4 linked regions of the Homo sapiens genome follow. The protein of the gene in region 3 interacts with the protein of the main gene of each other region in a pairwise test. Each region holds a gene or a part of one and is shown on either strand. Other genes may lie near its edges.

What was found. The genes of interacting proteins can lie anywhere in the genome.
Region 1: the proteins of KIR2DL3 (region 3) and APOD interact in binary tests that used the Homo sapiens proteins (3 or more experiments, as listed by UniProt).
Region 2: the proteins of KIR2DL3 (region 3) and CLDN19 interact in binary tests that used the Homo sapiens proteins (3 or more experiments, as listed by UniProt).
Region 4: the proteins of KIR2DL3 (region 3) and UPK1B interact in binary tests that used the Homo sapiens proteins (3 or more experiments, as listed by UniProt).

Annotation. Positions count from the first base shown.
Region 1 is NC_000003.12:195,573,696-195,577,440, forward strand, and holds part of APOD (apolipoprotein D precursor), read right to left. Parts: intron 277-3,745; coding exon 155-276; intron 1-154. UniProt on the Homo sapiens protein: APOD occurs in the macromolecular complex with lecithin-cholesterol acyltransferase. It is probably involved in the transport and binding of bilin. Appears to be able to transport a variety of ligands in a number of different contexts.
Region 2 is NC_000001.11:42,737,192-42,741,392, reverse strand, and holds the start of CLDN19 (claudin-19), read left to right. Parts: upstream 1-1,156; 5' UTR 1,157-1,329; coding exon 1,330-1,552; intron 1,553-2,807; coding exon 2,808-2,972; intron 2,973-3,079; coding exon 3,080-3,164; intron 3,165-4,201. UniProt on the Homo sapiens protein: Forms paracellular channels: coassembles with CLDN16 into tight junction strands with cation-selective channels through the strands, conveying epithelial permeability in a process known as paracellular tight junction permeability.
Region 3 is NC_000019.10:54,744,826-54,748,813, forward strand, and holds part of KIR2DL3 (killer cell immunoglobulin-like receptor 2DL3 precursor), read left to right. Parts: intron 1-2,509; coding exon 2,510-2,560; intron 2,561-3,988. UniProt on the Homo sapiens protein: Receptor on natural killer (NK) cells for HLA-C alleles (HLA-Cw1, HLA-Cw3 and HLA-Cw7). Inhibits the activity of NK cells thus preventing cell lysis.
Region 4 is NC_000003.12:119,187,098-119,190,842, forward strand, and holds part of UPK1B (uroplakin-1b), read left to right. Parts: intron 1-677; coding exon 678-878; intron 879-3,147; coding exon 3,148-3,222; intron 3,223-3,745. UniProt on the Homo sapiens protein: Component of the asymmetric unit membrane (AUM); a highly specialized biomembrane elaborated by terminally differentiated urothelial cells.

The sequences.
Region 1 (3,745 bases), on a different chromosome or scaffold from region 3:
CTTGCCTGCCAAACGCTTTCCTCTCAATTCCTGCTAGGAGCAGGCAGTCCCGATCCAGCAAGGTTCCCATCCTCCCTGACCCAGGCTGCCGGACACCCAGTCACTCTGCATCAGCACTCCGCAGGCCTGGCCCCGGACGCCCACAGCCACTCACCTCAACTCCTGGTTTAACACTTTGATCTTTCCGTTTTCCATTAGTGAGTAGTTGGCCTGGATGCAGCGTCCATTCTCAAAGGTTGTTGGGATCTTCTCAATTTCGTACCATCTTCCGAGATACTGCAGAGACAACAAGCAGAGCAAAACCCTGTGGTTCTCTGGGGACCTGCAACTTCTTCCCCATTGTCGTGCAGACGCAGAGCCCTGTCCTGGGGAAGCCAGACAAAATGGGCCTCATTGTTCCCAGTGGCAACTGGGCAAGAGATTGATTGCAATGAGAATCTGTGACTAGGATGGGATGTGCGGGCAGGGGGTGAATGCTGAGTAAAGGGCTCTTCTCAGGGCCCACTTCAGCCAAAATCGCTGTGACATTCTAGACTCTGTAAAAAAAGGGGATGATGGGAAATACCTTTCATCTGAAACAGTGCACAATTCTACAAGTCATCTTTGAATCCTGTGCAAAGTCAGATGTGTTCGCTGTGGGGAGCTAGGACTCCAGAGCGCACGGAACTTTCCTCATCTGACCCTGAGGAGGGATTTAGTCATCAAGGCTTTGGAGAGGTGGTGGGGATTTGAAAGGTCTGTATCATGCTTTCTCTAGGGGCCTGCGCTCAGTCCAGACTTCAGGTGTATACAGTTAGCTTTAAAGGAAGCTGCCACTGTGTGGGGAAGGTCGAGGGAACCAGGCCCTCCTAGGCTGCCTGGCACGCGTTGCAGGGAGACCATACCAGTTTACAACCTCTGCGGAGGGCAGTTTGGCAATATCTAGCAAAGCTAAAAATACATATTATACTCTTTGGCCCAGCAATTTCACTTCTGGGAATGCATCCTCCTGATATAAGAAATGATGTATGTGTAAAGTTATTCATTACAGTACCGTTTGTAATAATACAAGATAGGAAACAGCCTATGTGAGCATTAGTAGGGGGCTGGGTGAGTAAACGATGGCATATCCAGACAATGGAATTTTACTTCCTCTTTCAAAAGAGTGGTATGCAGTGATTTCTAATATTTAATGACAAAAGAGTCAGGTACAAAATAGTGTATCTATTAAGGCACCTTTTGTGTAAAAATGGAGAAAATGTTTATTACGTTGGTTTTCTGTTGCTGCTATAATAAATTAGCACAAGCTTCAAACAGCACAGATTTATTATCTTGCAGTTGTGTAAGTCAGAAGTCTGACAGGTCTCACTGGGCTGAACTCAAAGTGTTGGCTGTGTTTCCCTCTGGGAGCTCTAGGGGAGGATCAGTTTCCTTGCCTTTTCCAAGTTCTACAGGCCGCCTACATTCCTTGGCTTGAGGCTTCCTCTATTTTCAAAGCCAGCAAAAGGAAGTCAGATCCTTCTCACATTGCATCTCTCTGACTCTTATGCCATCATCAAACCTCTCTCTCTTATCACAGCTGGGAAAGATTCTCTGCTTTTAAGGATTTATGTGATTAGATTGAGTTCCCCTGGATAATCAAGGCTAATCTGGCCATCTCAAGGCTCATAACTTCGATCACATTTGCAAAAGCCCTTTTCCCATGCAAAGTAACATTCACAAGGTTAGGGCGTGGACACCTTTGGAAGCCACTCTTCTGCTTACCACAGTTATTAAGTATTTGCTTGTATATGTATATATTATCTGTAAAATTACATAATACATGGTTTTTACTAGTTGCTACTGGGGAGGGAAACTGAGGTACAGAGGTGGGAGGGAAACTTTATGTGGTGTATTCTTTTACACCTTTAGGATTTTGAACAATGTAAATATATTTATCTAGTTAAAATACTAATTAGAATTTTGTTTTTTTGAGATGGAGTCTCACTATGTCACCAGAGTGGAGTGCAGTAGTGCAATCTGGGCTCACTGCAACCTCTGCCTCCCGGGTGCAAGTGATTCTCCTGCTTCAGCCTCCCGAGTAGCTGGGATTACAGGCACGTGCCACCATGCCCGGCTAATTTTTGTATTTTTACTGGAGAAGGGGTTTCACCATGTTGGCCAGGATGGTCTCAATCTCCTGACCTAGTGATCCCCCTGCCTCGGCCTCCCAAAGTGCTGGGATTACAGGCGTGAGCCACCGCGCCTGGCCTATTCTAGAAATTTAAAAACAAAAAGAGATGCGCTCACCTTCAGAGTCAGAACTTGAAAAGAGAGGATGCTGCACACAGGTGAGTATTGCTTCAGCCACGGCTTTCCGCTCAAATGTATGCCACATTCATGACCATAAAGTTCTACTCACTTATTAAAGCACAGCTTTCAATTAAAGCCACTGAACTTAACATTCATTTAAAGTACCAAAGAATAAGGTTAGAGGTTAACTGGTTTCATAGACATTCTCGGAAGAAGCTCCATTTTCTATGGTGCATTCAAATCTGTTCTATTTCTGTTAAAGTGAGTTTAGTGCCCCATAGTAAAAACCAAGGAAGCATGATTTTTCAGAAAAGAGGAAACTCAGAGCTTCCTTATGATCTCATATTATTTTTGCAAAGGCTTCTTAATCTTTTCAGATCTCTGGTCAGTATTGAAAAATAATCCTAGAAAAGAAGAGGTAAAACTCTATCTGTTTGCAGATGACATATAAAATATCCTAAGAAATCTAAAACAGAGACAAAACCAAAAACTATTGGATCTAATGAGTTAAGCAAGGTTACAAGATACAAGATTAATATTCAAAAATCAAATATATTTCTCAGCCAGACGCAGTGGCTCATGCCTGTAATCCCAGGACTTTGGGAGGCCGAGGCGGGTGGATCACTTGAGGTCAGGAGTTCAAGACCAGCATAGCCAACATGGCGAGGCCCCATCTCTATAAAAAATTTAAAAATTAGCCGGGCATGGTGGCACGCAACTGTAATACCAGCTACTCGGGAGGCTGAGGCAGGATAATCTCTTGAACCTGGGAGGCAGAGGTTGCAGTGAGCTGAGATGGTGCCACTACACTCCAGCCTGGGTGACAGAGCAAGACTCTGTCACACACACACAAAAATATATACATATATAAACATATTTCTCTACTTGCAATGAACAATTTGCAGATGAAATTAAGAAAATTCCATTTAAAAGGCCGGGCACGGTGGCTTGCTCACACCTGTAATCCTAGCACTATGGGAGGCCGAGGCGGATGGATTGCCTGAGCTCAGGAGTTCGAGACCAGCCTGGGCAACATGGTGAAACCCCGTCTTTACTAAAATACAAAAAAACTTTGCTGGGTGTGGTGGCGTGTACCTGTAGTCCCAGCTACTTGGGAGGCTGAGGCAGGAGAATTGCTTGAACCCGGGAGGCGGAGGTTGCAGTGAGCCAAGATGGTGATGCTGCACTCCACCCTGGGTGACAAAGTGAGACTCCGTCTCAAAAAAAAAAAGAAAAGAAAAGAAAAAGAAGAAAATTCCATTTACAATAACATCAAAAGAATAAAATATTTGGGAATAAATTTAACCAAAGAAACATAAAACTTATACTCTGAAAACTACAAAGTATTGTTGAAAGAAATTAAAGATGACCTAATTCAATGGAAAGATACACTATGTTGACAAGTTAGAAGACTTAATATTGTTAAGATGGCAGTACTCCCCAAATTGATCTTCAGATTTAATGCAATCTGTAT
Region 2 (4,201 bases), on a different chromosome or scaffold from region 3:
CTGGGGACTTGTCCCTTCAGAGGGGGGTTGGGGCTGTGGGGGAGGAAGCCAGCAGGGGTCTGCAGCAGGACCCTGCCTTCCCCCAGTGCAGTCCAGGAAGGGTGGGTGGGCTGTTGGGGACGGAGGGGGCGGCGGGGGGCTGGCAGGAGTGGAAGCAGGGTTGTGACATTCCTTCTGCACCCACGCTGCAGTGGGGCCCACTTGAACGTGAGGGGATTGCTAATGAGGTGGAAGAGAGTTAAACATTCCCCTACTCCTGAAGACCAAGAGAGACTGGGAGAGAGAAGAGGGAGGTGGGGGTGCTCGGAGCGGGCAGCCTGAACCCCGGGAATGTGCAGAGGCCACTGCTCCGCGCCAGGCTGCTCTAGAGTTGGGGGCCAGGGCCCAGTGTTCCAGTCCCAGCAGGAGCTACTAAGCCAGCCAGCAAGGGGATTAAGGGGCTGAGCAATCCGCCTTCCTTCAGGCTGATGCCAGAAGGTTGGGGCTGTCTCCCCAGCTCCCCACCAGGCCCCTTGCTGGCCGGCAGCCAGCGCTGGCCCAGCCTCGATAGGGCCCCTTTTCTGTCCCCCTCAGATCTCAAAAAGACCCCACAGTACATATTTCCTGGTCTGGCCTCCCTGATTTTTGGCACACACAGCTCCCAGGTACCCATGACCCCTCTTCCCAACACCCCACCGCTAGCTCAGCCTCCCCACATCCAGCTTCAGAGCCCCTGCCAAAAAGTTATCCTTGACATCTAACTCTAGTTTTACCCGCTGCAAACTGGCATTCCTTTCCCTTCTGTCCTAAAGTCAAAGGGCAGAAAACCCCAAGGGTTAGATCAGCCTTGCAAGAGCAAAGTCCATCCTCCCAGGGCTGGTGTTTGGGTTAGGGATTATCCGAATTTTAGGACACCCGAATCAGGTTCCTAAAGGGGTTTCCCTGTGGGGAAAGGCCCAGAGGGCAGCTGGGTCATTCCTCTCAGCCCCTCCCTTCCCTATCCCTGCGGAACGGGGCGGGGCAGGGACACCACCTGGGCCATGGGCCGGCCCTCCGCCCCCAGGGGGCTGGGCATGAGCTTTGCTGGGGACCCTGCTCTGGCTTAGGCGGCTGCTGTGGGCGGGCCCTGGCCTTTTCCAGCCCCTGGGCCTCCCCCTGCATTCTGGAGTCCAGAGCCACTGCCTTTGCTCCAGCCGCTGCCGCCGCACCACCTCTCCTTCTCTGCCTCTGACCCTCCTTCTCGCTGCTCCCCCTGCCCAGCTGCTCCTCCCACCTGGCCATGACCAAAGCCCCTGCTGGCACCCTGGCCCAGCTCTGAGTCCTGGGACCCTCGGTCCTCTCTCCTGGGCCATGGCCAACTCAGGCCTCCAGCTCCTGGGCTACTTCTTGGCCCTGGGTGGCTGGGTGGGCATCATTGCTAGCACAGCCCTGCCACAGTGGAAGCAGTCTTCCTACGCAGGCGACGCCATCATCACTGCCGTGGGCCTCTATGAAGGGCTCTGGATGTCCTGCGCCTCCCAGAGCACTGGGCAAGTGCAGTGCAAGCTCTACGACTCGCTGCTCGCCCTGGACGGTAGGCCCCAGGCCGGCGGGGTGGGAGATGGGAGGTGGGAACAGCAGGGGAGTCTGGAGCAAGTTTTCCTCACAGTCTGCTATCTGCGCTGGGCTCCAACCTCCAGCCTCCGCTCTACAATTCCCCCACTACTGCCCTGTGCCCATTGACGGTCCAGGCCAGCCTGCTGCCCTGTGGGAGGGGAGGGCTCTAGGGTCTGGCGGCTGTGGGTCCAGATTCCTGCTCTGTCACTATAACTTTGAACTAGTCACCAAACCTCTTCCCATTGTGATGTTCTCATCTCTAAAGGGGAATACTAATACCTGTGGCACTCTGAAAGACTCAGTTAAGACCCTTCATCCACTTCTCCCCACAGTCAGTAGACAGACACACACTGTATGATGCACACCTGCTCCCTAGTCCTGCTCCCAGGCCTGTGTGCCAGCATATGGGTGCATGCACATGCATGCAAACACGCATGCACACGCACACACGTGCACATGCATGCACAGACAGGTGTGTCTGCATGCAGTCCCTCTCCTTCTGGGGTGTGGAGATGAGCCTGACAGGCACCGCCGAAGTTCTAACTCTGGGGTGGAGGTGATCCACCTGCAATCTGCCCAGGAGCCCCCAGGGACAATCTGCTCCCCATGGGAGCTGGGAGCAGAGCGGCCTTCAACCAGCCCCATTGTGCCAGTTCAGGCAGGTCAGTTCAGGCAGGTCATCTAGCCTCGCTGAGGGACCCAGGTCTCCTGAGCACCCCCCAGGGCCCAGGATGGACCCATGCACCCGTGAAGAGGCAAGCTTCCAGCTGCCATGGGCAGAGGGGAAAGTGACTGTTGTCTGAATGGCTGCTGGGGAGGGGTTGCTGCGGGGCTCAGGCTGAGTTGAGCTGGGCCTCAGATACCCCCAGCTCTTCCACCTACCAAACCTGAGGGGACCCTGGAGCTGCCCTCAGCTGCTTGGGAGGATGGGCCAAGCCCAAGAGGGAGTCCCCAGGCCAGAAAGCAACAGCAGAGTGAATCATACTACCGGAAAAGCCTGCAAGGGCGAGTGGAGAATGGCGTTGACAGTGAAGGGGACTCTCACCCCCACACCCTGTCCTCATGCCCGGGCTGTCACTCCTCACTATCCTGCACCTGCCAGAAGGTGGTCTGACCCCCCAGGCCAGCTCCTGCTCAAGCCCCTCTCAAGCTGGGCTCCTTCCACCGACCCCAGGCACCGACCCAACCCCCATCCCCGCCAGCCCGACTCAGTGTCATCCCGCCCACCCTAGGTCACATCCAATCAGCGCGGGCCCTGATGGTGGTGGCCGTGCTCCTGGGCTTCGTGGCCATGGTCCTCAGCGTAGTTGGCATGAAGTGTACGCGGGTGGGAGACAGCAACCCCATTGCCAAGGGCCGTGTTGCCATCGCCGGGGGAGCCCTCTTCATCCTGGCAGGTGAGTGCCCCTCACTCCTGCACAATCACAACCATGGCAGGCAGCCCCAGCCCCAGTGGCCTCGGGGGGCCAGAGCAGAGCTGAGCGCCCCTCTGCTTTGTCTTTAGGCCTCTGCACTTTGACTGCTGTCTCGTGGTATGCCACCCTGGTGACCCAGGAGTTCTTCAACCCAAGCACACCTGTCAATGCCAGGTGGGTGCCAGGGCTTGGGTCTTTTGCTTTACCTCCTCTGGGGCCACTGACCTTTGTCCACTGGATCACCTGGCGGGGGAAGTGGGGACAGGATCCAGCTGCTGTCCAAGAAGCTTTAAAGGGGGGCGCCAGGAGGAGTGTGGTGGGGCCCTCCATAGGGGCGGGAGGCCTGTGATGGGCACCCAGGTGCAGCAAGGACTCTCTAAGGACCTAAGTGCCCTGGCTCTGGGTTTCAATCCCAGCTCTGGCTGGGTGCAGTGGCTCACGCCTGTAATCCCAGCACTTTGGGAAGCCAAGATGGGTGGATCACCTGAGGTCAGGAGTTCAAGACCAGCCTGGCCAACATGGTGAAACCCCGTCTCTATTAAAAATACAAAAAATATCTGGGCATGGTGGCGGGCGCCTGTAATCTCAGCTACTCGGGAGGCAGAGGCAGGAGAATAGCTTGAACCCGGGAGGCAAAAGTTGCAATGAGCCGAGATTGCGCCACTGCACTCCAGTCTGGGTGACAGAGTGAGATTTTGTCTCAAAAAAATCAAACGATCAATCAATCCCAGCTTTGCATGCACTGTGTCACCTGGGCAAGTTACTTAATCTTTCTGTGCCTAGTTTCCTCCTCTGTGAAATGGAGCTAGAACCTGAGCACCAGTTCACACATGGTTGTCAGGATCCAGCAGGATGCAGGTGAGGGTGTGGCACCGTGCCCGGGCCCTGGACAGTACCCAGCAAGCCTGAGCTGTTTTCATTTCTGCTGGTGGCAGCAGGGCTGAGATGACTTCCTGCAGGAGGCAGCAGTTATTCTGGGCCAGGAAGAAACTTGAGAATAAGGGCAGATCGTGGAGGGCCTTGCAACCACAGGAAGATTTTGTTCCTCATTTGGGTGGAGGCAGCGGCAGTCCTTCTGGCTGTGATGTGCAGAATGGTGGGGAGGGAGTGACACCAGGAAGGCGGCTGTCCCAAAGGTCTGAGCAGAGAGTTTGGGGCAACAGGGAGGGAGCAGTGGAAAGCAGGCTGATATTCAGGAGATAACCAGGACT
Region 3 (3,988 bases):
CATTTACCATTTTTAAGTGTAAAGTCTAGTGGTCATAAATACATTTATATATATATATATATATATATATATACACACACACACACATATATAAACATATATATATATATATATATATATATATATATATTTTTTTTTTTTTTTTTTTTTTTACCCTCCACCCTTTTATTCCTGGCCTCTGGAAGCCACCATTCTACTCTCTACCTTCATGAGATCCACCTTTTAGCTCTGTATATGGGTGAGAAATGGGAATCTTTGTAATGACTTCCAGTTCCATCCATGTGGCTGCAAATATCAGGATGTTATTCTTTCTATGGATGAGTAGTCTCCACTGTGCGTATGTACTACATTCTCTCTATCCATTCATCCACTGATGGGCAGGTAGGTTGACTCCACATCTTGGCTACTGTGAACAGTGCTGCACCAATCATACGAGTGCAGATATCACTTCGATATATTGATTTACTTTCCTTTGGATATAAACCCAGTAGTGAAATTGCTGGATACTATGAAAGTTCTCTTTTTAGTTATTCGTTTGTTGTTTTGTTTTTGTTTTTGAGACAGTTTCCCTCTGTGCCCAGGCTGGAGTACAAGTGAAGTCATCTTGGCTCATTGCAACCTCCGCCTCCTGGGTTCAAATGATTTTCCTGCCTCAGCCTCCCTAGTAGCTGGGATTACAGGTGCACGCCACCATGCCTGGCTACTTTTTGTTTTTTTTAGTATAGATGGGGTTTCCCCATGTTGGCTGGGCTGCTCTCAAACTCATGACCTCAACTGAGGTGCCCGCCTCGGTCTCCCAAAGTGCCGGGATTACAGGCATGATCCACCTCACCCAACCTCTTTTTAGTTCTTTAAAGGACTTCCACACTTTTCTCCGTAAAGGCTGTACTAATTTACACTCCTACCAACAGGGTATTAGGGTTCTCCTTTCTCTACCACTTTGGCAGGATTTCCTTTGCCTGTCTTGCAGCTAAAAGCCATTTTATTTTATTTCATTTTATTTTGAGATGGAGTTTCGCTCTTGTCACCCAGGCTGGAGTGCAGTGGTGCGATCTCGGCTCACCACAACCTCCACCTCCCAGGTTCAAGCGATTCTCCTGCCTCAGCCTCCCGAGTAGCTGGAATTACAGGCACACGCCACCACGCCCAACTAAATTTTGTATTTTTAGTAGAGACAGTGTTTCTTCATGTGGGTCAGACTGGTCTCAAACTCCCGACCTTATGAGGTTCACCCACCTCAGGCTCTCAAAGGTCTAGGATGACAGACGTGAGCCACCACGCCCGGCCTAAAATCCATTTTAATGGGGTGAGATGAAAACTCACTTTGATTTTAATTTGTGTTTCTCTGATGATGAGTGAAACTGAGCACTTTTTAGTATGTGGGGAAATTTCATGTGTTTTGCTCCTTTTTCAATTAAATCGTTTGTTTTATTGAGTTGTTTGAGCTTCTTATATTTCTAGTTATTAATCCCATCTCAGATGCATAGTTTGCACATATTTGCTCCCAATCTGTGGGTTGTCTCTTCACTTTGTTGGTTTATTTTTAGCGGTGCAGAAGTTGCTTAGTTTGAGGTAATCCCAATGGTCTATTTTTGCTTCGATTACTTGTGTTTTGAAGGTTTAAAACAAAATGTCTTCCTTCAGACAAATGTCCTGGAGCATTTCCCCAATATTTTCTTCTACGTGTTTCATAGGTTCAGGCCTTAGACTCACATCTTTAATCCATTTTCATTTGAGTTTTGTGTATAGTGACAGGTAGAGGTGCAGTTTCATTCCTCTGCATGTAGATGTCCAGGTTTCCCTGCACTGTTTATTGAAAAGACTGTCCTTTCCTGATTGTGAGTTCTTGGCACCTTTGTCAAAGTCCATTGGATGGGCTGGGCATGGTGGCTGACACCTGCAATTTCAGCACTTTGGGAGCCCAAGGCGGGTGGATCACCTGAGGCCAGGAGTTCAAGATTAGTCTGGCCGACGTGATGAAACATTGTCTCCACTAAAAATATAAAAATTAGCTGAGCATGGTGGTCAGCACCTGTAATACCACTACTCAGGAGTTTGAGGCCAGAGAATTGATTGAACCCAGGAGGCTGTGGTGGCAGTGAACCGAGATTGCACCTCTGCACTCCAGCCTGGGTGACAGAGCGAGACTCCATCTCAAAAGAAAAAAGAAAAAAACATTGGAGGTAAATGCATGGATTATATCTGTGTTCTTCATTCTGCTCCATTGTTCTACGTGCCTTTCTTTATGCCAATGTGATGCTGTTTTGCTTACTACAGCTCTGTAACATATTTTGAGATCAGGTAGTGTGATGCTCCTGTTTTCTCTTTATACCTTGAAGTCTCAAGACAGTGGGCGTCACATACAAAAATTACGGAAAAAAGGATCCCAGGACTCCCAGGGCCCAATATTAGATAACAGAGTGTTGGCCATGAACCAACCTCAAAGATTTCCATTGAGTAGAGGACAGACACCCTCATTTCCTCACCTCTCTCCTGTCTCGTGTTCTAGGAAACCCTTCAAATAGTTGGCCTTCACCCACTGAACCAAGCTCCGAAACCGGTGAGTACAGAACCCTCTTATATCCGCTTTTGGAAACCTGGGGAGGTAGAAACCTTCGATGCAGGCATTGACTCAGCATCTCGCAGCTCTGACATTGTACGCCTGTCTTCTACCATCTCCGAACTCCAGATACTCCAACAGCGAAAGGGATCTGGGCCCAACCTAGGGCTCAGTGAAATCTCTTAATCTCTCATTTTATGGAGCTGAGACCTCCTACAAGCTAGAAGAATGATTGCCAATCTGACATCCTTCTCAGGAAAAATGCAATGTTTGTTCTGCCTGCATTCCTAACTGGAGGATAAATTCCTGGGGGCTTGAGAGAGGGAAGGGAAGGGAACATCTGATGAGGGCGAGGTGTTTTAGAGAAGTTCCACTTGCCAAGGAATGAATTACTGTTGGTCATGAAGCAACCCTGGCTGACTCAGCAGAGCAACAGCCTTGCCGTAACAGAGAACGGAGCTCATGCACGCACACTTCGACTCACTGACTCATTCAGCCACGGCCCCATGCTCAGGCTGTGCAGTGCGGAACCTTTTCCTATTGTTGCCATAACAAATTTCCACAAGATTCGTGGGTGAAAACAAAACGGTTTTTTAATTATCTTACAGTGCTGTAGCTCAAAGTAGGAAGTGCATCTTACTGGGCTAAAATCAAGGTGACAGCAAGGCTGCCTTCCCTCTGAGGATTCCAGGCAAGAATCTGCTTCTCACTTATCCCAGCTTCTAAAGGCTCCCAGTTCCTTGGCTCCTGTTCCCCTTCCTCCTTCCTCAAAGCCCACAAAGACTGGTCACATCTCACATGGCATCACTCAGTGCCTTCTTCCTTACCACACCTCTTTCTCTGAATGCTGCTCTCCCTTCTTCCTTATCTTTTGAAAACTTGGGGATTCTATTGGGTTCACCAAGATGAAAATCCCTCATAATCTCCTGGAAATCATCCAGGATACCCTTGTTTTAAGTTCAGCTGATTAGCAACCGCAATTCCATCTACAATCTTCATTCCTCCTTTCCATGTAAAATAACATATTCACAAGCTATGGAGGCTAGGACAGGGACATTTTGGGGTGGGACAGCATTCTCCTGCCTTCCACAAACGGTGAACAAGATGCATTTGGCTTCTGCCCTTGGGACACTGATATTGCAGATGGTTAAATGGGAGGGCAGAAAATGAATGCACAAGTGGATCTATAAATGAATGATCCATTGGGAAGCATCTGTGCATGAAATCTATTTTTTGTTTGTTCTTTTGTTTATTGAGACAGAGTCGCCCTCTGTCTTCCAGGCTACAGTGCAGTGTCACGATCTTGGCTCACTGCAACCTGCGTCTCCTGGATTCAAGTGATTCTCCTGCCTCCGCCTCTCGAGTAGCTGGGATTACAGGCAACTGCCACCGTGCCCGGCTAATTCTTTTTGTATATTTTTTGTAGAG
Region 4 (3,745 bases), on a different chromosome or scaffold from region 3:
TCACTATTTCTTTTCTATGTCACCTTGGTTTGATTTCCATGGGACTCTGCTGTTAAGGTTTTTTGGGACAGATGCTTGCATCTTGTTCTTCTCATACAGAGGCCAGTACCAGGGTGTAAGAATAATACAGAGGCCATACTGTGTGGGTCTGGTGGCATAGAAGAACATTTGTTTTGGAGTCCAGAGCTCTTGGCCCAGCTCTCCCTCTGACTCCCCATATGACTCTGGCCATCACCTTTCAAGGCTGAGATTCCTCATCTATAAAATGTGGGTGTTGGCAAAGATAAGCAGCAAGGTTCCTCTCAGCTGTCATTGATAAATATGACCAGGACCAGCTCAAATATTACAACCCAGAAATGTGGGTCATGACATGGGGGCAGGGGGAGATCATTCTCATACCAGAAAGCATTGTTTGAGTGATTCATGCCCCAAGGACATTGTGGATGGTCTGAAATTGTGTGGGTCTGTTACTAAATAGACAGAATAACATGTGAAGGGATGTATGCAACCAGTTAGTAGGATGGAAGTAGTTGTTTGATTTCCTGGCAATGGGGAGTTTAGATTAGTTGCATAAAGCCTGTGCAGGAAAGGGAGCCAGTCACTCTTACCTTCCCCACCCTCCACCCCCTTTCCCAAAGCTGCACTCCTGATGGAGCCCACCTTTCATTTGCCCCCAGTGTTGCGGCATTGCCCTGACTGCGGAGTGCATCTTCTTTGTATCTGACCAACACAGCCTCTACCCACTGCTTGAAGCCACCGACAACGATGACATCTATGGGGCTGCCTGGATCGGCATATTTGTGGGCATCTGCCTCTTCTGCCTGTCTGTTCTAGGCATTGTAGGCATCATGAAGTCCAGCAGGAAAATTCTTCTGGCGGTAAGACCTCAAAATTCTCTGGAGTTGTCTCCCTGAGCCAATTGTAATGGATTCTTTCTTCTTCACTGAGCAATGCTTTGGCTTTCAGTGGGGGAGCAGGAAGTACCAGATAAGGGGTGAGGAGGGGAAGACTTTCCCTGCAGTGAAATGGTCCACATGGAGGCAAAGATGCCCTCCACTATTGCAAGCCCAGAAGGCTCCAGTACAGAGAAGCCAAAGGGGAGACACCTGGGGGTGACCTAATGAGTATTTTCCATATTGTGCCTCTACAGCTGGTGTCTGCATACACCCAGTAGGTACAGCTAGGAGCTATATAGGCCAAAGGAGAGACACAGTGAGAATTCATTCATTAGATTTTTTTCTCTTGGCAATAACTTGTTTAAAACATTTTGATATTAATTAGGCATTAATATATTAGGATATAAAATATAAAATATGCATACATTTTTAAAAGAAAGTATAAGCTTTCAAAGATTTTTGAGCTCAAGGTTGATGATTCTGTATCATAGCCTATACTCCCCACATTATCATCCAATCTGCTTTTCAGGGACCCCAGAAAACCTTGATAAGCACCACTGTAGAGTGAGCCTTCAGCTCACACCTGCCTGTGGGGGCTTTAACTCTGTACATCAAGGAGAGGCTTCTGCCCCAAACCATAGACAGCAAGACCATGCCCTGCCTTTGCAGATGAAAGCAAATTTGCAGGCAGCAGAGCTGAGAAACCTGTTTCAGACGTGGACCCCTACTGTCTGCCCTAATACTTAGGGCAGCAGTTTCACACTATTATGGAACACGCCTCCAATCCCCCACCCCTGAAATAACCCTTTTATTCAAATGCTGCAGGACCTCAGTTCCCCCTTTATAGAATGAGTCCAGCAATGTAAGGTGCTTGTTAGTTTACTCTTCCTTTTAACTAACCACTGTCCTGGTTCCAATGGATTACAGAACATTTACATTCTCTGGTTCCTTAGTGTGCGTAAGTTCCAGGGCAAAAGTACCCACTTTTGGTGGGTGGGGAAAGGAATACAGGAAAAAGGGAGAGGAGACACAGGTGTTCCTAAAGACAAATTCACTTGCATCCCAGCCTCACTTTGGGCCAGCCATGTGCATGCCTGACAACCAGGAGAACTGAGCTGGGGAGGCAAAGGGGCTAAAGGAGGAAACACCTCACTGCATACCTCCTTTCTGGAGCGTCTTTACCAGGAGCCAGCAAAGCTCTTGGCAAGGAGCAAGGCAGCAGCTAACACAGGAAAAAAATGTTCTGGGGCCTCTGAAGGTGCTCCTGCTGTTGACTGTAGCCAGAGCTTTATTCTGGGCTGAGTAGTGAGGGCAACAGAGGGTCCTGCTCGGAGAGCCTCCCATACCCAAAGAGGAGGACAGTTTTCCCTGCCTACCCTGCTGACACTGACCACAGTGCCCCTTCTCCCAAGAGTGTGTGCAAGCCTGGGGAAGGCAAAGCTGGAACTCTTGCAAACAGTCCCCATCCCAGATTCAGAGGTCATTTGCTGTTCGGATATTTTCCAGCCAGAAATAGCATCACTGTCATGTGGAGGTATCATGTGCACACGCACCCATGTGCCCATGCTCACGCACACACACCACCACTACCACACACAGCAAATGCCATTTCACTCAACTGAACCAATGTACTTTGAGTGTGGGTGCGTGTGAAAGAACACCCACAAATGCTGTGCACTTGAAGCCTGCCTCTCCTCTGATGAGACTGGATGCTTGTTAGGAAGGACCCTAGATGTTCAACATTATCCAGTTCATCTTTTTCTGAACTCCGTGATTCTAAATTTTCAGCAAATTGTAAAGAAAATTTCTCCAAAATTCCAAAATTAAAGGGGATTTATGAGGCCCTATACTGTATGTGATACACTAAGACTCTCTTGCCACTCACTGAGCATGCACATGCATGTAAATGCACACATGTAAATGAGCATGTAAATGCTCACATGTGTGTGTGCACACATACACACCAGTTCATTCTCTTGTACTTGTTTTTCCCAGTTAAAATAGAAACTCAGGAAACTGGACTGAGGAAGGTCTGTATTCAATGGCTATTTGTTCTCTGGAGAAAAGGAGAGAATTGAGCTGACTAGCACCAAGCCTCAATCCAAGCCACTGGTCAATGAGGGTTTGTTGAATAACTACATGAGTGATTACATGATTATATGATAAATTTGCTGAAAAAACATAATTATTTGGGCAAGTCGCTCTTTGACGGGTAAATGTAATTCTTTTATCTCATTTATTTCCCTTCCAGTATTTCATTCTGATGTTTATAGTATATGCCTTTGAAGTGGCATCTTGTATCACAGCAGCAACACAACAAGACTTTGTGAGTACAACCTCAAAAAGCAAAATAATATGAATTATCATTATTATAACAACCAACATGTATTAACCCCTTACTATGTGCCCAGGCAATCCAATATGCACAGTAATAATACATCTATCATTTTACTTAATCCTCATAAATCTATGAAATAGGCATTATCACTCTGGTCATTTGAGAAAGGAAAAAAAATGAGACAGAAAGGTAAAATGACTTGTCTAAAGTGACATAGTTGGCAACTGAAAGAGCAAGAATTCTGAACCCAGATGGCCTGACTCCCAGGGCCCAAGTTTGTAATCCCCTGTGGGTTTCACCACTCTGCCATGGCCATGGGCCTTCCAATGGGAGGATCTCTGTTCTACCTCAGCTAAGACGTGCTCTCAATTCTACATCTTTCTTTCTCTCCCATTCTCTGTTTTCCTAGCCTAAGCCACCCTACAGTATGTGTTCCCCTGGCCTCATAGTGATTTCTTTTAAGATGAGAGTCTCTTCTCTGCATGGGGACTTATGCCAACCTCAGCCAGCT